3 separate regions of the Homo sapiens genome follow, and regions 2 and 3 are each linked to region 1. Evidence: fine-mapped expression QTL. A gene starts in region 1. Each other region holds a variant in brackets. All regions are shown on one strand. Distances are between the middles of the regions.

Region 1 (8,180 bases):
GCTTCATAACTCAATTGCTCCATGACCTTAAGCCAATTTAGTTCCCTCATCTGTAAAAATGGGGATAACAACTGAATTTACCTCATGGGATTGTGTAATGCCCAACCTTGTTTTTACTAACCCTGTTTTTAGACTCTCCCTCTTCCTTTAATCACCTAGCCTTGTTTCCACCTGAATTGACTCTCCCTTAGCTAAGACAGCCAGACAGACTCCATCTTGGCTCTTTCACTGGCACCCCTTCCTCAAGGACTTAACTTGTGCAAGCTGACTCCCAGCACATCCAAGAATGCAATTAACTGATAAGATACTGTGGCAAGCTATATCCGCAATTCCCAGGAATTCGTCTGATTGATAACGCCCAAAGCCCCGGGTCTATCACCTTGTAATAGTCTTAAAGCCCCTGCACCTGGAACTGTTTACTTTCCTGTAACCATTTATCCTTTTAACTTTTTGCCTACTTTATTTCTGTAAAATTGTTTTAACTAGACCCCCCCCTCCCCTTTCTAAACCAAAGTATAAAAGAAAATCTAGCCCTTTCCTCAGGGCTGAGAAAATTTTGAGTGTTAGCCGTCTCTCGGTCGCTGGCTAATAAAGGACTCTTAATTCGTCTTAAAGTGTGGCGTTTTTCTAACTCGCTCAGGTACAACAATTGTTGTAAGGAATGATTGAATTCATCCAAGTAAGGGAATTAGAGCAGTTTCTGGCATGAAGTAATTGCTCAATAAAGTGTGTCAGGTTTTAAGATTAATTGATCTTTACATCATGATAAATGGCAACAAAATAAATGACAAATGGATTAAAGTAAATGGTAAAAACAACATAAGAACAAAACATTAAAAAATCATATAATAGAAGAAACCAAATATTAGTAAGTGTGAATATATAAAGTGAAAATTACTACAAGTTCAAATATATATATATATATATATATATATATTTTTTTTTTTTTTTTTTTTTTGAGACAGAGTTTCACTGTGTCACCCAGGCTGGAGTGCAGTGACGTGATCTCAGCCAACTGCAGCCTCCACCTCCCAGGTTCAAGCAATTCTCCTGCCTCAGCCTCCTGAGTGGCTGGGACTACAGGCACACACCACCATGCCTTGCTAATTTTTGTATTTTTAAATAGAGAGAGGGTTTCACCATGTTGGCCAGGCGGGTCTCGAACTCCTGACCTCAAGAGATCCACCTGCCTTGGCCTCCCAAAGCACTGGGATTACAGGCATGAGCCACCGTGCCCAGCCGTTAAAAAAATTTTGAAAAGGTAAATCATAAGCTGGAAAAAAGATTGCAACGTATTTAAGAGTTAATACCCTTAATATATTAAAAAATCAAATTTGTAAGAAAAAATTCAATACATCAAGAGAAAATATATAAAGTACATGTAAAAGGAAGTTCCATATTCCAATTATGAAAATTGCAAATCACGGTTAAATTTATAATAGCCAGTGTTGGTTAGCATGCACGAAAACAGAGAAACAGGTGCTGTTGATGGAAGTGTGTTTTGGTTTAATTTTTTGGAGGGCAGTCAGAAAGTAACAAAAGTCTTAAAAATGTCCATAAAATGGACCTTACAGATGTCCACCTGGTCGTTCCACCTCTAGAAATTTGTAAGACAAATAATTCGGCCGGGCACAGTGGCTCACATCTAACCCCAGCACTTTGGGAGGCTGAGGTGGGCGGATCACGAGATCAGTAGATCAAGACCATCCTTGCTAACACGGTGAAACCCCGTCTCTACTAAAAAATACAAAAAATTAGTCGGGCGTGGTGGCACACACCTGTAGTCCCAGTTACTTGGGAGGCTGAAGCAGGAGAATTGCTTGAACCCGGGAGGCAGAGACTGCAGTAAGCCGAGATCACGCCACTGCACTCCAGCCTGGGTGACAGAGCGAGACTCCGTCTCAAAATAATAATAATTCAACACAGGGTCTCATTCTGTTGCTCAGGCTGGAGTGCAGTGGCATGGTAACAGCTCACTGCAGCCTCAACCTCCTGGGCTGAGGTGATCCTCCCACCTCAGCCTCCTGAGTAGCTAGGACTATAGGTGCACACCACCACACCTGGCTAATTAAAATTTATTTATTTATTTAGTAAATAGAGATGAGGTCTTGCTATGTTGCCCAGGCTGGTCTCGAACTCCTAAGCAGCATCATTTTTTCTAGGTGTTAAACTGACAACCACCCAAATTCCCAGCATAAGGATTCTGCTTAAAATATCTAGCTCTCTGATGAAATATCTTCAAAGAATATTTAATGACCTTAAATCTCAGACAAAAAGGTAAGGAGACAAAATGAGGAACCCATTTCCGTACAACCCCAATTTGGAAAAACACATGTGCAAGTATGCCCATGTTAAAAAATATAGAAGAAAAAAAGGCTTTAAGGAAAAAAAAAATAATAGTAATGATTTAGGGTGGGAATCGCGTTAATATTCCCAATAATTTTATATATTTTAAAAATCTATAATTTTATCAGGGGAAAACGTTATGTTGCGGAAATTAATTGATCGATTGAGTGATTGGTTAACGGACAGTGTCCGATGACTCATATAATCCCCCGGTTCGAGTCCCTTTAGGCCGCAGACGTTTCGCGCCTTCTCGGGTGTCCAAGTCGCGCATCCATACAATGAGGGGTAATATACTAGATTACCTGAGGTCTTCTTACGGTAAAAACACCGGTGTCTTAAGGTTTCCCAGTGGAATTTGGGGGCCGGGTTGACTTCGGAGCTGGAGCTCGCAAAGGCCGGGGCTGCTGCAGATTCTGACGCTTTGTGGACCCCTACTACCGAGCGCAGCCGCACCGCAGGTTTTCTTCGCTGCTGGTTAGATCCAAAGCCCATCCCATCCTAGTAAACTGGGACAGCGCCGCTTCTCACATCACTATGGGGGCTTCTGCTCCGTGGCGGGGAAAGGCCAGAACTGCTGCCTTAAATACGCTTTTGCATCATCCGGTTGCTAACCTCCGGCCACAGCATTCCCCACTCCAAAATGCCACTTTTCCAGGTGTGTTTGCCTAAATTTACCCCATTTACAGACTTCTCAGGTGCATCATTGGGAACAGGGCGCTTTGCAGTTTGCAAACCACCTCAGACAACTCCAGGTTTAAAGGATAAAGGATGACATTGTGAGCAAAGCGGCATCAAAATTTCAGATATTTAACTTTCACATTCTAACCATACACCTTTCCAAGGTCTTGTAATACTTTCACATTGTGAATATACATCTTTACAAGACCCAGTAGTACATGGGTCAAGTGTGGCAAAACAGACATCGCGAGCCAGCCAGGAGTCGAACCTAGAATCTTCTGATCCGTAGTCAGACGCGTTATCCATTGCGCCACTGGCCCCGACTTGCTAAAGCCTTCTCCGTGATAGCTGATCACCCTTATACAGTTTGAACGGGCTTCCGGGTACCAACGATCCATTTTGCCCTTGCGCCGCGCTCCCGCTGCTCTGCCTTTCCCCAAAACGCGCCCCACCAATCCGCAGCGGCTTCGTCACGGCGCTCTTCGTCGCACTCCAACCCGCCGCGTCGGCGGCATCTCTCGCGTGCTCTTGCTTGCGCACTAATTTGTCCTCCACCGCCTCCCGTTCAGGCCGGCTCTCCTGCGGGGCGGGGAAAGGGGTGGGAAGAGGCTGGGAGCTGCGGCCGCTGTGCCAGGGTGACCGGTAGAGTTGTAGCCGAGGTGGCGGCGCGGGGCGGGGCGGGCGGAGAGAGAAGGAAGGAGGTGGTTGTGCAGGATGGCGACGGCGGCCTACGAGCAGCTGAAGCTGTGAGTCCCACGGGCCAGAGGCCTGAGGCGCGGCGGGCGGGGCGGCAGGTGCGGGCCCTGGCCTCGGGGAGGGCTTCTGAGTCCCGGATTGCAGATAGGGTGTGGGAGCTCCTCGCATTTACCGGTTTTCCTCAGCCGGCGCGGCCTCTCCTAGGCCTCGCCCGAGTAGCCATAGGCCGGGAACCAGCGGCTCGCCGGCCTTTCTCCACCGTGCTCGGCCCCAGCGCCCACGGCTGAAGAGAGAAGCTGCCGACTGGCCCCCACCGAGCCGGGGTCGGCGTTATGATGCGGCCCTTCAGGGCACGCTTGTCCCCACTTTCTATGCAGAGCTACCGACTAAATTTATCTGTATGACTTAACAGAGAAAAAGAGTTTTCTCTTACTTAACGGACCTACAGCAGCAATTTAGAGTCTACGCACAAATCAACAAATCTTTGTTTTGCTTACAGCCTATCTGGGTACCGAAGCCTGCCTGCCCCCTCTTCAGTGTGCAGAAAAAATTTAAAGTACAGTCAGTAGTCTTAAGGTCCTGAAGGAGTTTACTTTGGTTTAAATTTTAAACAGCTCCAGCCTAAAGCAGGTTCTTAAGTCAGTGTCGACAGCCAGAGGCTAATCTCGGTAATTTTGGTACTGCAAATTGACTTTTCGGTAAATCCAAGTTCTTGAGTCTTTGATACAGAGGCTGTGGTTGTTAAGAGTTATAAAATAGGTGTTTTTAAGGGTTTTGGTTTGTCTTGGATTAAAAACAACATGTGTTTATTTCCCTTAGTGTTACCCATTAGCATCCACACTTTTCTTGTCTGTGAATAATTTTGTTGTACTCACTTCGTGTTTAATGCTTTACCCCTAGGCTGTTTGAAAATCTGGTGGCCACAGCCTGGGAATATCTGGTAGGAGAAACAAATGTAATTTTTTAGAAGCTTATCTATCCCTGTATATGAGCTAAAATACCTTGGCAGTTAGGCATAGATACCGCATTTCTTTTGCAGGGAAATGACACCAAAATGTGGTTTGGGCACTTAAGCTCCTCAGACCTCAACCTCACTAGTAACTTTCTGAAAGGTTCAGTGGAAAGTTAGAGGTGCAAAATTCAGAGAGGTCATCTATTCCACATTGTATGTGTTGCAAAAAAGATGATTGCTTTTTCTACAGTGCACCCCCTGTGGGTGCCATTTCTGTTTACTGTAATGTTCTTTGAAAACCCTAGCTGCACACTTCCCTCCACATTTTCCTCTCCACCTTTCCCTATTTTCTCCCAGTTCCCCTTTGCAAAGTGCTCACCTCGTCTTTGGTGAAAGAGTTGAAGGAAGTGTCTTCCACTGCGTTTCTGGCCAGGCCACTGTCACATGTGCTCTGCTAGCTAATTAGGTTATTGTGTATCTGATAGGCACTGAAGGGTTTAATGTGATCCTACACCAGGTCTCAAATGTGTTTAAGCCATATGGAGCCATGGCTTCATGCAGCTTAGCGTGGCAAAGATTGAATAGGATGGAGAACTTGAGAATTATGATGATTGTTTTTCAGCTGCCAGAACACTAAATTTAACCAGTTCAGACCTTAAAACAAACCCAAATCCTCGCATACATAAAAGAGAAAGGAAATTTGTCCCTGAAGTAGTAAGAATGATGTTTTTGTATTGATTTTTGTGAGAAGTGGAAACTCTTAAATTATTTGGGTGATAAAGTCAAACTGGGGTTATGTGAAAGTCATTCTCTCATTTGTCAGTCCTAGCTTTTTTTCCCCCTGAAAAAAAAGTTTAGAGTGTTTCTGTAAATGTGAAGGTACAACTTTTTTGCACCTTTTTCTTTACCAAGGGGTTTATGAGTTAGAGTTTCCATTTTTATTCCTTCCTTTTGGCCCTTCCTGCTCTGAGGCTGCTGTTGAAGGTTTTCAAATGTGGCTCCTGCCCTAAGGAGTATTCTTTTTTGGATGCATTTAGAAGTGAAATTGGTTTCTGTGTAAGAATTGGTAGGAGATAGTAGCCATTTTTTAAAATGTGTCTGGAGATGTGTTTTAAGAAATATCCATGCAAAAGAGATAGTTCGATTATTTTATTACAAAAGGATTGCTAAAAGGATTTATTTAAATGTTGAAATGCTTGTTTTTTTTTTCTTTTGTTTCGTTTTGTCTTTAAAGAGATGGGGTCTCATTCTGTTGCCCAGGCTGGAGTACAGTGGTTTGATCATAGCTCACTGCAGCCTCTAACTCCTAGTCTCAAGCGAGCCTCCCACCTCAGCCTCTCGAGGAGCTAGGACTACAGATGCACACCACCACACCTGTCCTACTTCGGATTTTAAATAATAATTCTGTCTGCATTATGCCATGCTTTTTCTCCAGCCCATCTCTGCCTTGTTGAATTTCACCTTTCTAATGCTCTGGTTTTATCCTCTACTTTCCTGCTTACAATTTCCAGTTCCATCTTACTGACCTATAGGATCAAACTTGCATTTCTTAGCCATCTGTATATTCTAGCCTTTTTATAATCTGTCGCCTAATTTATTTCCCGTAACTGCCCAGAGCCTTTTCCCCACTTCTGCAAAACTTGGCTCATCCCCTTCTAGCTTCAAACTTGGGTGTTATTTTGATCCTTCTACCCAGAATGCCTTCTTCCTCTCTGTTCTCTTTACATACTGGTCACATCCATGGTAGAGCCAAGAGATCTCAGGTTTTGTTAGTCAGAATGGATATGGATTCATATCTTAACTTGACTACTTGTTTTGTGTCCTGGGCATAGTACTTAATCCTTCTGAATTGGTGTTTCAGTCTGTAAAATGGGAATGTTGATACTTCACAGGATTATTGTAAGGTTTGAAAGAGAGTTTTTTTTTTTTTTTATTATTTTTGTGAGACAGGGTCTCACTTGTCACCCAGGCTGGAGTGCAGTGGTGTGAGCTCAGCTCACTGCAGCCTCAGCCTCCCAGGCTCAAGTGATCCTCTCACCTCAGCCCCCAAAGCATCTGGGACTACAGGTGCACATCACCATGTCTGGCTGATTTTTTCTGTTTTTCAGTTTCGCCATGTTGCTGAAACTTGAACTCCTCGTCTTAAGTGATCCATGCACCCTGGCCTCCCAAAGTGCTGGAATTACTGGCATGAGCCACCATGCCTGGCCCAAAGAGAGTTTAGATGAAGTACTTAGTGTACCTCATAGGTACCTTCTTTGAGAAATGTTTTCTTTCCATGTCTTTTCCTTCACTGAGTTCTGGTAACAGTTTTTAAAGCCAAAAATGAAAAATTATTGTAACAGGGTTAGACACCAAATGTTTACATGATTTATGTATTCTGTCTCTTAGGATCAGTTTACAGTGCATTTACTTTCTCATGGACAAGAGGATGGAAAGCTAGAATGGTCAATCCATAGTACTGTTTGAACCACTCATTTTGTCACTTAGAAATGAAATCATTATGTACACCGTTATGTGACTCTTACTGACAGAGATACATTCTGAGAAATATGTTAGAAATATGTTAGGCAACTTCTTTGTACAAACATCAGAGTATAATTACACAAACCTAGATGGTACAGCCTACTACACACCTAGGCTATATGGAATAGCCAGTTGTTCCTAGGCTACAAACCTGTACAGCAGGTTACTGTACTGAATACTGTAGGCAGTTGCAACACAATGGTAAAGATTTGTGTATGTATACATACATAAACAAGAAAAGGTACAGTAAATATACGGTATTATAAGCTTATAGGACCACCATCATATGTGTAGTCTGTCGTTGACCAAAGCATTGTTACATGGCACATGGCTGTACTTTGTTTCTCCAACCAGTTTACACCTTAACATTTTCTTCTCTAGTCCTCCTCAGTACCTAACATAGAGCCTTGTGCAGAGCAGCTCCTCAGTGAATCAACTGAGTAAATGAAAGGAACTTTCCAGTATAGACCACGTACTAGCACTGCAAAAAGAACACAGTCTAGGGTAATTTGGAATGTATCGTTTTGAAGAAACACAGCTTAAAAGTCATTTCATGTATATTGTCTTCCCAGTGTCTCTGTGAGGTCATAGGTTGATAGGTATCCTGTCATTGTTGAAAACAGTCTCATAATTGCCCTTGGCCACAAAGTCAGATCATACAGCCAAGCCATGGTAGAGCTAGCCTTGGAATACGGCTGGTCCAGAGTCCAGTGATCTTTCCATTTCATTGCATTATCCATATGACCTTTTTTTCTCTTACCAGATTGCTCTCGCATTAGTCCTCAGACATGCCAGGTATTGAAATGAGTCACTTACAACCAAATATAGTTGACATGTCCATATTAATTTCCATATGTTTAATGTGGAAAACAGAATATTGATTTGCTCAGAATTTAAAATTCATACTTTTTAAACTTCCAGGCAGTTCTAAATATCCTGTTAGGCTCCATTTTTCTTTTTAAGCCATTTGTATAGGCATGGA
Region 2 (8,170 bases), 70 kb after region 1:
TTGCTAAAAAACAAATATTTCCCTACTCAATTTCTTGGAGCTAAATCAAGGTTTGCTATGTTTCCAGTAAAAACAGAAAGCTTTCCGGAGTCCATGATCTGGCCATCGTGTCATGGCTACCACTAAGGGTACAGGGATGGAATGTCCCTTTGTCGCTCCAGCTTATTGGAGGGTGGGTGGACAAATGTCGACATGGCCACTTTTGTGCAGTATCTAGGAAATGGCAAAGAACATTTTTTGAGACAGGATTGATTACTGGCTCAAGAGGATTCTTGAGAAATGTTCTGCTCTTCATGAAATTCACAGAAACGAGACATTTTCATCTGGAGCACATTATTCTGTAACAGTGGTGCTTCATCTGTTTGAGTTCCATGAGCAAAAACTATTCCGTAGAAGTAACTCTTCCATATAATTGGAAATGCTCAAAAATGCCTTCAAATTTTTAAGTCATTTTATAAAATGTAAATACTCCTCAATGTACCACCCATGTTCTTTCTTTTTTAAATGGGGCCTCTCAGATTTGGCTGCACATCGGATCACCTAGGGAGTTTTTGGGGCCATGGAGGCCCAGGTCTTGCTTCCAGAAGGTCTGATGGGTGGCCCCAGGGTGTGGTGTGGGCATCTGGAGTTTTAAATGCTCCCAGGTGGTTGGAATGCGCTGCAAGGTGGGGACACTGAATAAGGTAATGATCTAGGACATTTATCTTTTCACTCCTGAGGCTACCTGGTATTCAAGGCTTACGCACCCTGACTGATGACTGATCCCAGGTGGCCCTGAGTTGTAAGACGGTGACTGTGAGTGGGGATTGAGAGGAGGGCCAGATCCTCCAGGATTCAGAGCAGACTCGGTGCTGTGTTTGCCATTGAGTGTGCCGGCTCTTCAAGCCTTGACAGCAGGTTTTTTGACATAAAAGAACCTTCTGATAAGAAGATTGAATCCACGGGGTAGATAAGATTAAATCCATGGGGTACATGCTGGTTCATACATTTGAAAGTCAAATGTATGATAACTGGACAATCAGGTGAAGCTGGAAGATGAGATGGTTGCTGAAGACAGTAGAAGACCTTTCTAAAGCCTATTTTTGCTGTAAGAGAATTTTACAGCACAAAAATAAAAAGACATCTCCGGCCAACGTCCCAGGTGAGTGTTTGTGTCTTCAAAGATATCTGTGCAAATATATCCACAGAAACTCTCCAGAATTCCATGATCTCAAGGAAGCACTGGACGTTAGAGCAGGAAGGGACTCGCTCACTTTAGGGGTAACGACCTACTTTATTGCAGTTAAAAAAAGAAAAATTTTTTTGAGAAAAGAAATAAGACACAGAGACAAAGTATAGAGAAAGAACAGTGGGCCCAGGACCGGCGCTCAGCATGTGGAGGACCCGCACCGGCGCTGGCCTCTGAGTTCCCTCAGTATTTATTGATCATTATTTTTACTGTCTTAGCGAGGGGAGTGTAGCAGGGCAACAGGTGGGAAGAAGGTCAGCAGGGAAACATGTGAGCAAAGGAATCTGTATCACGAATAAGTTCAAGGAAAGGTACTGTGCCCAGATGTGCACGTAGGCTAGATTTATGTTTCTCTTTACCCAAACATCTCAGTGTAGCAAGGAGTAACAGAGCAGTATTGCTGCCAGCATATCTCACCTCCAGCCACAGGGCGGTTTTCTCCTATCTCAGAATAGAACGAATGGGAATGGTCAGCTTTTTACACCGAGACATTCCATTACCAGGGACAAGCAGGAGACAGAAGCCTTCCTCTTATCTCAACTGCAAAGAGGCCTCCCTCCTTCACTATTCCTCCTCAGCACCGACCCTTTACAGGTGTCGGGCTGGGGGACAGTCAGGTCTTTCCCTTCCCATGAGGCCATATCTCAGGCTGTCTCAGTGGGGGGGAAACCTTGGACAATACCCAGGCTTTCTTGGGCAGAGGTCCCTGCAGCTTTCTGCTGTGCATTGTGTCCCTGGTTAATCGAGAATGGAGAATGGCGATGACTTCTACCAAGCATACAGCCTGCAAACATATTGTTAACAAGGCACATCCTGCACAGCCCTAAATCCATTAAACTTTGATTCATTACAGCGCATGTTTCTGTGAGCACAGAGTTGGGGCTAAAGTTATAGGCTAACAACATCTCAAAGCAGAAACAATTTTTCTTAGTACAGATCAAAATGGAGTTTCTTATGTCTTCCTTTTCTACACAGACACAGTAACAATCTGATCTTTCTTTTCCCCACATGGACTAATGCGATATCATAGATATGGTGTGTCTTCAGTTACAAGATGCTCTGTTTGAATTATATACATTTTAGAAAACTATGTACAGATGAATAATTTAAAATTAATTGTAAGTGGTATTTGTGGTCTTGATAGAGTTGGCCACGATGTCCAAATGTAATATTAAGCCTATGGGAAAGTCAGAGCCACTTTTTTTTTTTTTTTTTTTTGAGTCAGAGTCTTGCTCTGTCGCCCAGACTGGAGTGGAGTGGCATGATCTTGGCTCACAGCAACCGCCACCTCCTAGGTTCAAATGATTCTTGTGCCTCAGCAGCCAGAGTAGCTGGAATTACAGGCCTATGCCACCACTCCCAGCTAATTTTTTTGTATTTTTAGTAGAAATGGGGTTTCGCCATGTTGGCCAGGCTGGCCTCAAACTCCTGACCTCAAGTGATCCACCCACCTTGACCCCCAAGGTGCTAGGATTACAGGCGTGAGCCACCGTGCCCAGCTGAGATCCACTTTCATTCTCACCTCACAGTGGCTCCTGACTCCTTTTCCAATGCACCAAGACACACACCACGGAGGGATGTCTGCACAGACTTCTAATGTGGTTTGGGGTTGCAAACTGTAGTTGGGGCAATTTTTTGTAGAGAGGTCTGGTCCTGGACCCACCGTCAGAGACCTTAGAGAAAGGATCCCTTTGGGGGTCCCAGACAAAGATCTTCTTTCTTTATAACTTGTCATCCTAAGATTTAAAGGGTGGAAGGGGAACACAGAAATTGCATATTCACTACAACTCAAAAAAGAAGAGAATTAATTTTGCACCACTGACAAATAGGTCATCTTAGGCACTTCAAAACTCCTTAAATGGATCTAAAAATATTTGTCCTCTAATATTTTGGTGTCTCTTCAGCCAAAAACAAAAATTGCTTAAATTTGGTCCCATAAGAATTATAGTCATATTTCAGTTTGCAATGTGCCCTAATTCTAGGGCTTTCCTGGAATGAAGGATGCAGTTATCTTTGAGACCGGCTTTCATAGCCCACCCCCTTCCATGATGAGGAGGCAGGTGACAGGGAGGAACAGCCACCACGGGAGGGTGTGCGTTCTCCCAAGGGAGTTTTCTTCCTGCACACCTTCCTCATCTTCTTTAGACACTCAGGAAGTTGATGGGCTGAGCACTCCTGGCTTAAGCATTTGAAAAAGCAGCCGAGGAGTTTCCGCCTGTAAATAGTATCTGTAAAACCGTGAGCGGCTGGGAAGCCCACATCTCAGGCCACGGGGTCTGCGTCTCCCCTCTTGAGGCGACGCTGAACAAAAGTCCCCAGGGCCGCCAGGGGGATGCACATGGTGGAGGAGGCCACAAGCAGCCCGATGACAGCCAGTGCATAGGCCGGGTAATCTTTGGTCACGAGCTGGCCCTGAAAGGAGAGACTGAGTGTCAGCAGAGAGCACCTGCTGAGCACTGCCCCTGGGCCTCAGGGCCCATCCGTGATGGGGAGGTGATGTGACGTGGGCAGAGAGCATGTGGGGCCGGTGTCCTCACTCCTGGGGCCACGGGCTCTGCAATTCACTAGCAAATGTGCCAGGAGCCTAACTGCCCTCACCTTCTTTTTCTTCCATAAACTAGGAATAATAGTAACTACTTGAACCAGTGGGTGTAGAGCTATTGTTTGGAGCTACCCATAATGAATAACCATGGTAATAATCAAGCACCTTATGTCTAAGGCAACTTTCAGGGAACCTAAACTGTAGGCGACTACTCTTAGCCTGGAATGGGACTTTCCCGTGAAGGTAGCAACGTTCTCTGTCAGTGCTGTCTGCTGCGGTAGGCGCGGAGGAGAGCGCTGCTCAGGAGGCAGGAGCTGGCGCCTTTGCAGCGGGAGTTTTTCTCAGCTTCCGGGGGACAGGTGGATGGGGAAGCTCTGGAGGAGTGCCTTCCTCTCGCCCCACTGAAGCACATACCTAAAAGCTCAAAGCCCAGCTCCTCCGTGCTGGACTATTTCTAAAATACCTCAGTGATATTTCCATGTCGTGACAAATAACCTACCCACACCATGGAAATAGTCCCCTGGTTTCGGAAAATGAATGGCCCATGCTTTTCAGTGGCCATGGGGGCCCAGCGCCAGCCCTACGGAGACAGTAGATACCTGGGAGGCGTCCCAGGCTTGATACTTCAGGGTCCCCGTGAGGA[T/C]GTAGTCGCTCAGGTAGAAGACAAAGAGGCTGACAATCAGCAGTGGGCTTACGCCAGCCCACATCACCTTCCAGTACCAGCTCACAGCTCGGCCGGTCATGGCCTTAAGGTCACTTTCAAATCTATTTGGAAAACAGGGAGAGAAAGTCTGGATTAACCAGGCTGCGGAGGTCAGGGCGTCCAGCTTGCCTGTCCCTATTCACAAAGGAACATTCTGTTCTAGGTGGTAAAGGATGTCTGAGCTTGGCCACTGGGCTCCTCTGTGACACCTTCTTGAGAGACGAGTGCTGCGGTGGGGAGGGGAGAAGGGCTGAGGCTGCCCAGAAGGGATGACGGAGCAAGCAACCCGCAGAGAGTGGACATCAGAAGACGCCTTCCTAATGCCAGCCTTCAGATGAAGGCTGCTGGCATAGCCCAGAGGGCAGCCTCCAGGAATGGTGGGCACAGGCAGCAGGGGATGGACATTTGTCAGGCTGGTCATCAATGACAGGGACTTCTTGGGCGGCTTTGCCCACCCCCCTACCCAGCCCGCCCCTGTCAATCAGTGACTCCCTTTCCCAGTAGAAACACCACGGAGCAGAATCACTTGGTCCATTGAAACCAGAGCAGGTTTTCTGGGACAGAGGAAGAGCCAACCTCGGACTGAAGGACCGTAGCCCTGGCCTGCTGGAGCTGGTCTAGAGTGGCCAGGGCAGTGAGTCCCAAAGGCGTTGCCCACAGCCACCATCACCACCTCCATCATGCCTGTAGCTCTCTTTTCCCTCTTCTTTACTTTTAAACCTACGGTTAGCAGCAGCACAACAGCAGCCAGTTTCTCATCGACTTGACAAACTAAGTACGTGTGTTTTTGAATACACGTACACAGTATAAAAAGTATCTTTGGCATTTTGGGAGATGTTGGCCCAACGAAACTCCCCATTTCACACAGGAGGAACCAAGGCCCAGGGCTGCGATGCCTTCTTCCTTAGGGCTTGGTAAAGACCAGGCCCAGAACCTGGGTTGGCCTCCTGCCTCCAGCCCAGAGCCTTTAAACCTGCTCCCTACAGCGGAAGAGGCAGCCTTGGCGGGAGGGGCTGGGGTGGTGTGGGTGTGACGTCACCAGCTGCAGCCACAGCCCCTCCCTCCCTGGGACCTGCTGCATGTCCTGGGTGTCCATGCGAGGCTGTGTGGCGACCACCACCTGCCCTTTGCTGCTGCTGACGTAGTTGGACTCTAGGCTGCAGGCCATGAAGGCTCATGTATGTGACACGAAAACCTGGGGCTTTCAAAATCAGACAGGTGAAAAAGTGTTGGGGGTCCTCTTGTCCCTTCACACCCCCATAACCCCCCCCCCTTTCCTGGATGGAGAAAGTTGGGAAGAGCTGGCTGCAGAAAAGCCCCAGGACACTGTTGCTGGGTGGTCACTAGATGGCGGTGTCACCTGAGCAAGCCGAAGCACTCCCCTCCTGCCACTTACATGGTCAGTCCACCTACGACATCTCCAAGGCACGTTTGTTTCTGCCTCTGTCTCCCTTCACCAGCCCCTTTTTGATGGACTTGTGCCCCTCACCCATCTAGTGACCTCCAGCGGGCCCTAGGTTCTGTTCCTCTCTCCCAACCTTCTCTTTTTATCCTGAAACACTCACCCTCTCAGTGACCAATCTCTTTCTCCCTCTAGACTGGCATTTCCTAGGTGACCAGGGATTTTCCCAATTTTAGTACTGAAAGTTCCACGTCCCAGAAAACCCCTCAATCCTGGGGAAACAGGGAGAGTTGGTCCCCTTAACACTAGTGTCCTCAAAATGTTAGTAGCTAAGGGTGGGAGTCGGGTGAGAGGAGGGTGAAAAGGCATTCCTTGACCAAGTAAGTCTGGAAATGCTGCAATTCTAACCCTCTCTTTGGGATCCACAACTGTCTTTAAGATTCTGAGAAGTCCTACGGGAAAGACATCAATTTGGCTTTGTTTAACTTATGTCCTGATGGATCATGGGAGATCCCTCAGCATGGCACGGGACCCTGGCCTTTCCGGGGACACAGCAGGGATTGCTGCTTCAGGGATGCCTGCCTCCCAGAGTGTTGTCAATGTCTCCCTCCCCACCCTGAACCAGCACAGAGGATCAAAAAGACTGGGGAAGAGGGCAGAAAACAACGTGGCACAGCCTCCTCGCCCAAACCGCACCCACTAGAGCAGCGCTGCCCAAACTGTGATGTGCCTCAGGCCCCCTGGACATAGTGTGAAGATACAGGATCTGATTCAGCAGGATGGGGTGGGCCCGAGCTTCTGCAGTCCCAACGAGCGCCTTGTTGCTGCTGCTCCCGCTCTAGGGACCACACTTGAGGTAGCAAAGCTCTCTAGGCCAGTGGTTCTCAAAGTGTGGGTGCCAGACTCATCTGGGAACCTGCTAGAAATGTGAATTCTTGGCCCTCCCCTGGCCTGCCTGATCAGAACCCTGGGGGTGAGTCTCACAGCTGTGTTTGACCAGCCCAAGGGACTCTGAGGCACACTCGAGTTTGAAGGTTGCTCTAGACCAGTGGCTCTTGCCCCAGCTGCACATTCCATCACCTGGGGAGAACTAAAACATTCCAGTCCCGTGCTGTGCACTGGGATTGAGAACCTCACTGACTAAATTTTGAATCTGCCAAATTTTCTAAGGTCTAAGTTATCAACTGGACTTTGGTCAGGGTTCTTGGAAAATACTGATGTTGGCCGATGATCAGAGCATCCAGTGCCTGGAGGCACAATTCCCTGCCCCAGTAAGCTGTGGGGGTCCAGCAGGGTCAACCCTAAAACAGCCTATGATACAAAGCAAAAGTACAGGGAATAGAGAAAAAGATATTCACTGAAGCAAACTGAGCATGGAATAGAGGCAGAGCATAAGCTGAGATCTGCGGGCAAAGAACAAACGTTGAGTCATGATGCGAAGCTTAAAGAAGAGGTGAAGATGTGCATCAAGAAACAGCTGTTTTCCTTGAGGGGCGTGGCCTCTGTGGCTGTGTTTTCCCTATGCAAATGAGGGTCCTGGGCCTCCTCACCTCCTCAGCCCGTACACGTAGCACACGGCAATCGTCTCCACCAGCACGATGAGCAGCAGGGACAGTGTGGCCGCGTAGTCGTTGAATATGTCAAACCAGTAGTTCCCAGCCTCCATCGTGAACACCATGCCAATGGCACAGTTGACAAGGCACACCAGACCTGGGGGCCACAAGACCAGCTGCTCACCTGCCCGAGACCCCCCCACTACTGCTTACCAGTTCTCTACAGGACAGTGGGGTCGTCGGCCCTCAGGGAATTTTGGCTGATTGCTTCATCCACATGGGTTGAAAGAGCTGTCATGGTTTGGACTCTCTGAAGGTGTGTGCCACGTGTGTGGGGCAGGGGGCACAATGGTGTCCCGAAGCGTGTTGGCAGGGGTCACTGATGTTGACTCACTGAGCTGCCCTGCAGGGGTGGCAGAGCTTAAAGCTCAATGAACAAGCAGACGTAGTGGGCACTGTCATTCCAGGATCCCGCCCAGGCTGTGGGTCTACAATTATAACCCCCGCTGTTTATCCCAACAACTCAGCCCTGGAGCTCATGAGAAATGAATCAGGGGAGGAGGCTTGAATATGGAGTGGCCCCATCAGGACTTCCTAGAGAGGACTTGCCTCCACCCAGAAGAGGGTGGGGCAGGGAAGAGACAAATGTCCACCCAGATCCTCCCTTGTGCCAGGCACTTGCAATGCGTTGGACCCTTAGGCCTCTGAGGCAGGTGTCCGGAGCCCCCTTTCACAGATGGGA
Region 3 (8,180 bases), 45 kb after region 1:
AAAGCAAAAATGAGAGAACAACCCTGTCCCCCATTCTTTGCAGACTTGCTGTATGCTGGGGCAGTCCTTTGCTGAGTAGCCAGGCTTGCTGTGAGCCTAGGGATCAGTCTGTGGTAAAGGTTTAAGGTCTTCTCAGGACTCTTTTCAGCATGCATCTTGCCTGGTTATGTGGGTGGCCTTCAAAACTCCTTCATATACATGGCTGCTTTTGAAAGTCCTAATTTCCTAAGAATATCACCAAGCTTCTTCTCCAGCCTTTAGATGGTCTATTGTATGTCTCCATCCAGAATTTTTTGCCTCAGGCATCCATTGGTTTATGTTCCTCTTGTAGCTTTTACAAACAGTGGTCACCATTTTTACTGCCCGTGTTCAGAGATACGTGGGACAGAGATGAGTTAGTCCTTCATGTTACAACAGATGTACACAATTATATGCAAATAAGGTCTGGTCTGCCTCCTCTAGTTTGATGAGGGGAACTGAGAACCCGGTTATTCCCTTGTAAGACTAAGGTTGTCACCACTCTGAGGAGGGGCTGGGTCAAGGACAAGTTAAATGCCACAAAACTTTCCCACCATTTTGAAAGTGACTTTTACTTTATTGGGTGCTTGGGTGGGTTACTATAAAACCTTTAATCGTTTTTCAGAGCTCCTACAAAGTTGGCTCAGACAGCTTCTGGGTTTTTTTGATGTTTCTGTGGGAGAATGATGAGAGCTTAGAGCTTCCTAGTTTGTCCTTTTTCTGATACCATTCTCTCCTTTGAAATAAACTGGAAACTATGGTGTTTGAAATTTTTTACAGATTAACCAGAAGGGCTCGGAGAAGCCACTTGAGCAGACATTTGCAACAATGGTGTCTTCCTTGGGAAGTGGAATGATGAGGTACCTCACTAGAAATCTGTTGCAGGTCTTTTCAGATCAGATGTGCACTTACATATATGCATGATTACATAGAGCTCACTAGACATATGTTTCAGCTTGCATTTTTTTCAATAGTAGATCAAAGCATGATATTTTGTTGGCTTGAAATTTCTCTAGCATAATTTATGTTGCAGAATAACTTCTTTTCAGTCAAGTTTTGAGTTTAGTCTCTGATTAAAATTCCCTCATTGAGGCTTTGTGCTCCAGAGAGTTTCCATAGATAATACTTTGCCACTAGAATTGCCTTAAGGAATTTGGACTAGGCCTCTTTGCAGTGCATACCTGATTGCTGTACTTGAGCTTACTTCACTACCATTTGTTGTGTTTCTCCTCTACTCCTCCTGAGGGCCCCAGAAGAACCTGTGAGGATAGATATATATGCATATATTTTCATGTTTATATCTGCACATATCATATATATATTTTTTCCTCTGCTAGGTATGAGCATGAGAAGGGGTGTGTGTGTGCATGTAGTATATGTATAGTGATAAACCCAGAGTGAAGGAGGTTCTAGTGTTCCCAAGAAATATGTATGCACTGATATAAAGAGGAAAATCAGCTTATGAAGGTATTATTAATAGAAGGAAAATGAATGATCTCTGGTCGGTTTCTGAATATCTTTTCTTTTGGTAGATACATTGCCTTTGACTTCCATAAGGAATGTAAAAATATGAGATGGGATCGACTAAGTATTTTATTGGATCAGGTAGCAGAAATGCAAGATGAATTAAGGTAAGCTATATTATTTCCTTAAGGAGGTAGAGGGAAGAGGTATATATATCAGTCATATTTTATTATGCGTCATCCAGCAGACTTACAAGTACAGTTCACTGGATTGTCATTGCTTGTCTGTACTATTTTATTATTTTTAATTTCTTTACTGGAAAGATGAGACTTGGTGACTTCAAAATATTTTTGAATTCTTAAAAATGACCCAAGGCCAGATATCTTCATATTTTTATAAATTATCTACCATACATTTACAAATTTTTGTATAATTGAACTTGGTTTACTACTATTTTGTATTGTCGTTTCCACTAGACATTCTATCACAAGTATTTTGTTGTTAACCTGTACAGCGTCTGTAATGATAGTGTTTAATGGCTTTTCTATATTCTGTTTTATCATAACATAGTTCTAAGAAAGTGCTTTTCTTCACCCTGAGCACCTGGTTTATTTCCTTTCCTCTTTCTATCATGAAAGATTGTGGTGCCATGAATCATTATATATATTTTACATCTGTTAAATTTATTTCTTTAAAAAAATTCTTCAGAGTAGGATTAATGGATCAAAGGGTCTGAATGTCTTTGCAGTACTATATTATCATATTGGTTCAGGTTTACCATACTCTATGCGTGCCAGTCTTTACCGATTTTAAAGCCAGAAGAAGGAATCTGTAAATCGTACTACCATTTTCTTCTGCCTGTGTGTGATGGTTCTAAACCTGGCAATCCAAATGCACTTTTTAATTTGTTACACAATAATATAGTAAAACCTCTTGGATAGACATTTGCTCAGTTTTCAAAAATATCTTTTTATATACATTAGGTAATCAACTACAGTTATTTAAATCTGCTTTTTTTCTGTGACGTTTTGCCATGAACACAGAAGGGAAATTGACCTCCTGTTGTTGGGCAATTAGAGAAAACATTGGCTGGCCCTGGCATGTTGTTGGAGGAGGTAGTTCCTTGGGTTCACCCATTAACTGCTGCCGTACAAGAGTGTAAGAAAGAAGGAGAGTTGACTCCAGAGTTTGTGTTCGTTGCTGTTCACTGTGGTCCACAGGGAGAGCAGAGCTTTCACTGGTGACTTTCAGATGATCTCTCGAGACTTTTTTCTAAGGGTTTTGGGGGTAGTGGGAAGAATCTGGGCTTTGGGATCCAACACACCTTGGTTTGAATTTAAGTTTTTCTCTTAGTAGTAATATGACCCAGGGCCACTTAGTTATCTTCAGACTTCGGTTTCTTCATTTGTAAAGTGAAGATGATAACTTACTGTATAGTTTAAGCGATAATGTTTATAACATATCTAGGATTTTATAAGTATTCATGGGGTACGGACACACACACCCTTGCACACACATATATATGTACACCAACTCTAAACGAACCTTACCAATTCTGCATGATCCATATGTAGATTTTTCATCCTAACACATTCTTCCACGCTTTTGTTCCTGAGGTCATGATTTGTATTTAGCCCTTGATGAATCTGTTGCATTTTCTTCCTCCTTTTGGATTTTGGAGAATAGTTTCAATAGTTAACATTATCCAGTATTCGTTGTTTGCTGTGTTCCATACACTGTGCTAAGTACTTTATGTGCATTATGTGTTATCTCATTCAAACCTTAGAGAAGCCTAATGGTGGTGCTGCTGTTACCTCCATTTTGTGGATGAAAAAGCTTACTATTTAAAGTTCTAGAGTTAGTAAGTTGCGTATGATGCTAAGGCTAGCAAACAGATAGTTTGCTTCCTGCATCCATATTCTTAACCACCACACTGTGTGTTGTCAGATTTTTGAATTCATAGAATTATCAAGGAGCTTGTTAAAGAAAACATGGGAACTGGTAACTGTGGTTGGTTGCAGTGCAGACATCTGGATGTTTAAGGGGAGGAAGGGAAACTGATTTTTCAAATAATACCCAATTGTTCTTTATAAATCTTGTACTATTTGCATGTATTACCCATTTAAGA[A/ATTT]TTTTTTTTTTTTTTTTTGGCTGGGGGCTGTGGCTCACGCCTGTAATCCCAGCACTTTGGGAAGCCAAGGCAGACGGATCACCTGAGGTCAGGAGTTCAAGACCAGCTTGGCCAACATGTCAAAACCCTATCTGTACTAAAAATACAAAAATTAGCCAGGCATGGTGGTGGGTGCCTGTAATCACAGCTACTCAGGAGGCCGAGGCAGGAGAATCACTTGAACCTGGGAGGCAGAGGTTGGAGTGAGCTGAGATCATGCCACTGTGCTTCAGTCTGGGTGACGGAGGGAGATTCCATCTCAAAAAAAAAAGAAAAAGAAAAAAAATATTTTTAAGTATTTAAAAAAAATTTTTTTTAATTTAGATACAGGATATCGCTCTGTCACCCAGGCTGGAGTGCAGTGGTGTGATCATAGTTCACTGCAACCTTTAACCCTTGAGCTCAAGTGATCCTCCCACTTTAGCCTTCTGACTACAGGTAGGCACCACCATGCCTGGCTACGTTTTTGTTCTTTTAGAGGCAGGGACTCGTTATGTTGTCCAGGCTGGTCTCGAACTTCTGAGCTCAAGTAATCCTTCCACCTCAGCCTCCCAAGTAGCTGGGATTACAGGCACGCACCACCACGCCCAGCTAAAAGTATTTTTAATGCAAAATATTCAATCCTTGCCTCAGAGATTCTGATTCAGTTGATCTCAAGGCCAGGAATCTTTTTTCACAAGCAACCCAGAGGATTCTAAAGATAGTATATGAATCATAAAGCCCTGACATCTAGGGATATAGTTGGAATAATTATGTTAGAGGAAACCCTCATCTGGCTTTGGGAAACATGATTGATTTGCACAGCAACCTTTTTAATACTCTTAACTTTACTTTTTCACATCTTTGGGGTGAGATGATCTCTAATCTTCAGCCATTTTTTGGATGGAGGGCTGTCTTGCCTCAGCCATTTAGACTTCTTTTTGGTCTAGGATAATCACATATGCCTGACCACACATTCCTGTCTGACCTTTTAATTTACAGTTTTTAATAATGTCACTGAAATGAGACCCATGTTATAAGAGTTAAGTCCTTAGTAAATCTGACCTACTTTGGTATGAGAGTGTTTATACAAATATGTTTTAGTTATTTTCTAGTGGACTCTGCTGGCCAGGTGGTGGCAAACCAGGAAGGCGTGTTCCGAAGCAATTGCATGGATTGTCTAGATAGAACCAATGTGATCCAGAGTTTGTTAGCTCGTCGTTCACTTCAGGCCCAACTTCAGGTGCGAATGCTTTTTTTTTTTTTAATTGAAAAACAACACAGCAAAAAATTAAACATCTTTAAAACCCAGTAACAAAAAATATTCACATTGCCCACACCCTAACCCAGCTCTTTTTATTTTTGTGTCTTGCCCATGGATGTCACATTTTCCATAACTAGGGTCAGTCTGTGTATGCACAGTTTTCACTTTTGCCATTTTCCCTTAGCATTTATGTAATCACAGTTTCTGGTGGTTGTATTGTTGTGCCGTAATTTACTAAGCCATTCAGATTGCTACATTTTTGGTTTATAAATAACACCGTAGAGAATATATCTGTATATGTTATTATTAACTTGAATTATTTCCTTCATGTTAATTCCTAGAAGTGGAATTACTGGGTTAAAGAGAATAAATATATTATTTTCCAAGAGCGTCATACCAGTTTACACTGACACCAATAATGAATCAGTAAATCCATTTCATTGAACTCTTCCCAGCATTTGATATTTTAATTTTTTTTTTGTTTTTCCTTGAGAAAGTGTCTGGCTCTGTTGCCCAGGCTGGAGTGCAGTGGTGCAGTCTCGGCTTGCTGCAACCTCTGCCTCCTGGGCTCAAGCCATCCTACTAACTCAGCCTCCCACAAAGCTGGGGCTACAGGCATGTGCCACCACACCTGGCTAATTTTTGTATTTTTTTTTGTAGAGACAGGATTTCACCATGTTGCCCAGGTTGGTCTCAAACCCCTGGGCTCAAGCAGTCTACCTGCCTCAGCTCCCAAAGTGCTGGGATTACAGGCTTGAGCCACTGTGTCTAGCCTCTTTTTTTTCTATTTCGTTAATACAAAAGTAGCACCTCAAGATTGTTTCTATTTATCTCTCTCTTATTACTAGCAAGGAATATTGACTCCAAAGTAAAAAGTTTCTGACACAGCTTTGCTTTACCACTAGACTATGCTGTTGAGAAAAATGGTTTTTTTCTTCTGTGTATATTTGGAATGAAAAAGATGTAGAGCCCCAATTTTTAAATCACATTGGCATTTGTTGTGAGGGGCAGACAAAATGCATACCACATGGTTTCCTGTTCAGGTAATTAGTAAGCATTCAGCTTTATTTCTGACAATTGTATGATACCGAGAAAGAAATTATGGAGGTAAAATACCCCCTTCAGAATGAATTGTTCTTGAATCTTAAAGTCACACCTGCCAGAGGAGTGCTGTCCCTGTTGGAGTAGTCTGTAGTTTGTATTGTGCTATGTCCTCGTCTGTTGGAAGGTCTTCTAAGTGTAGTTTTTAATAGAAACAATATTAGGAATGGTTTGGTTCCATGGCTGATTAACCAAAACTTACTTGACTAGGCTCTGCAATCCATATTTTACAATTTTACATGCTATATATAGTATTATGAAACCTAACCAACCTGCAGAGAGTGGGGGCAGGAGCCTCTCCAGCAGCTTTGCCTACTAGTGTAGGGGCTGTCTACTTGTGCCTCTCCAAGTCTGCCAGTGAAGGCAGAGTTCTTACCCAGCTAAAGGTCACCAAGGTGGCTCCTGTGCTGTGTCTGAGGGTGGGAATGACTCCTTCTGAGGTGGAGATGAGGTGTCATCTGAGGTAAGCAATGAAGATGGTGGTTCTCAGAAGTGATGGTCTGAGACAAGGCAGGGACTTGTCATCTGTGGTTGGTGGTCTCCAAAGGGGAGTCTATAGAGGGGATTCAGGGGGCCCAGCAACCCTGGGATATTCTATGTCTGTGTGTGTGCACTTTTGGGGAGGTAGATTAGGTGGCACTCATCAGATTCTTAAAGGTCCCTGGGACAGAGGGTAAGGCTGGGGTGACTCAGGGGTGAAGAAGTTGAGGGATGATGCATGTGAGGGGGTCTCAAGGGGTAGAGGCAGTAGAAGACTGGGGGTAAGAGGGAGGGAGGAAGTAGCGGCTGGAATCCTATAGCAGCTTTCACTCTCTCTTCTGACCCTCTCCCTGAGTATAGTCCTGCTGCTATCCCTCAAGGGAGTGCGGGGGCTGCAAGGCAAAGGTGCCCTCAGGAGAGGCTTTGCAGTCTGCCCTGGGCAGGAGAGGGCTGCTGTGAGCTGGGGCCCCCTATAGACAACAGACATTTCTGGCCTGCATCCAGCAACCAGGCACCATGAGATAAAATTTGGGGACTGCTTTTTCTTCCTAAACCATGTCTGCTAAAATCTATTACACATAAATCTGGGTGTGGTTTTTTATTCCAGAGACTAGGAGTTTTGCATGTGGGACAAAAGCTTGAAGAACAAGATGAATTTGAGAAGATTTACAAAAATGGTAGGTCATTTCTTTAATATAGACAAAGTTGGTCAGATTTTGAAATAAATTAATATTCTGGATTTAGAACTTTGTTTGTCATCTTAATAATTATCAGCTGTTTTTACTTTTTTCTACAGCCTGGGCTGACAACGCAAATGCTTGTGCCAAGCAATATGCGGGAACTGGTGCCTTGAAGACTGACTTTACCAGGCAAGCCATGCTTTTAAAATAGCATTCCACATCAGTAGTTCACAGTCCTGGTGCTTTTAAAAATCACCTGGGCAGCTTTCAGACAGCAGCAGCAACAACAGCAAGACTCCAGCATCTGGGCCTCACTTGAGACCTGTGGAGTCAGGATTTCTGGGAAGTGAGGCCCGGGTACTGGTGTGTTCTTAGCCACCCTGGGAGATTCTGATGCTTGGGGAGGGTTGAGAGCCACCGCTCCACAGTGCTCCTCAGACCTTACCGTGTACCTGAAGCACCAGTCTTGAGATGTGCTCTAAAAAGCACCCAGGTGATGCTGATGCTGCTTTCAAAGACTGCACTGAGTAATGAGGACATTAATGAGAACATTTTGAATGTATTATGCATGCAGTGGCTCTTTTTCTGCTATGTGGGTTCCCTGGGAGCAGAATAAGATTTCTAGTCTGTTTGCTTTGCTGTGTCCTACCACTTAACCTGGGCTATGTATTTCTCTTCATATTTCTTGTCTTTGCAACTGGAATTAGTGTGTTTCTTTGTGCCTCCTTTGGTAATATTTTAGAAAGAAAATAGGTATTTCTTGGACCTACAAGTGATTTCTTTTGTGAAGTATCTGTATTTTCAGGGATAGTTTTTAAAATCTGTCACTCACTTATTTCTATACCTTATGCTTATTGGCCATAAAACAGTGTGAGAATTCAGTGTACAAACCTGTAACTTAAAATTTAACCTCTTTAACCAGAACTGGAAAGAGAACTCATTTGGGACTTATAATGGATGGCTGGAACTCAATGATACGATATTATAAGAACAACTTTTCCGATGGATTTAGACAAGTAAGTTTGTA

Which allele goes with the higher level. Alleles are on the strand shown, and positions count from the first base shown. SD is a standard deviation of normalised expression in the study named. Not every link is listed here.
For the expression in Th1/17 cells of the gene that starts at base 3,669 in region 1, ATTT is the high allele of the variant in region 3 and A is the other (large effect, 1.1 SD a copy in Schmiedel 2018).

What was found. PIP is the estimated chance that this variant, and not a neighbour inherited with it, causes the effect.
Region 2: its variant is fine-mapped to the expression of SACM1L in whole blood (TOPMed, PIP above 0.99).
Region 3: its variant is fine-mapped to the expression of SACM1L in Th1/17 cells (Schmiedel 2018, PIP 0.95).

Annotation. Positions count from the first base shown.
Region 1 is chr3:45,685,728-45,693,907 of GRCh38, forward strand. It overlaps SACM1L (SAC1 like phosphatidylinositide phosphatase), which reads left to right and starts at 3,669. Exons shown (of 20, transcript NM_014016.5): 1 at 3,669-3,770. The coding sequence starts at 3,739. LIMD1 (LIM domain containing 1) reads left to right here. Exons shown (of 8, transcript NM_014240.3): 8 at 1-614. LIMD1-AS1 (LIMD1 antisense RNA 1) reads right to left here and starts at 3,155. Exons shown (of 3, transcript NR_033947.1): 1 at 2,649-3,155. TRR-ACG2-1 (tRNA-Arg (anticodon ACG) 2-1) reads right to left here and starts at 3,344; the gene lies at 3,272-3,344. RefSeq lists enhancers at 2,471-2,540, 3,051-3,100, 3,361-3,650 and a silencer at 3,681-3,860.
Region 2 is chr3:45,755,488-45,763,657 of GRCh38, forward strand. SLC6A20 (solute carrier family 6 member 20) reads right to left here. Exons shown (of 11, transcript NM_020208.4): 9 at 7,426-7,585; 10 at 4,370-4,535; 11 at 1-3,640. The coding sequence ends at 3,491. Among named protein-coding and RNA genes, the nearest start is that of SLC6A20, 37 kb to the right of the region's middle. The variant T/C (reference allele first, on the strand shown) is at 4,414.
Region 3 is chr3:45,730,503-45,738,682 of GRCh38, forward strand. SACM1L (SAC1 like phosphatidylinositide phosphatase) reads left to right here. Exons shown (of 20, transcript NM_014016.5): 12 at 799-878; 13 at 1,551-1,649; 14 at 4,733-4,871; 15 at 7,081-7,150; 16 at 7,270-7,342; 17 at 8,076-8,169. Among named protein-coding and RNA genes, the nearest start is that of SACM1L, 45 kb to the left of the region's middle. The variant A/ATTT (reference allele first, on the strand shown) is at 3,611.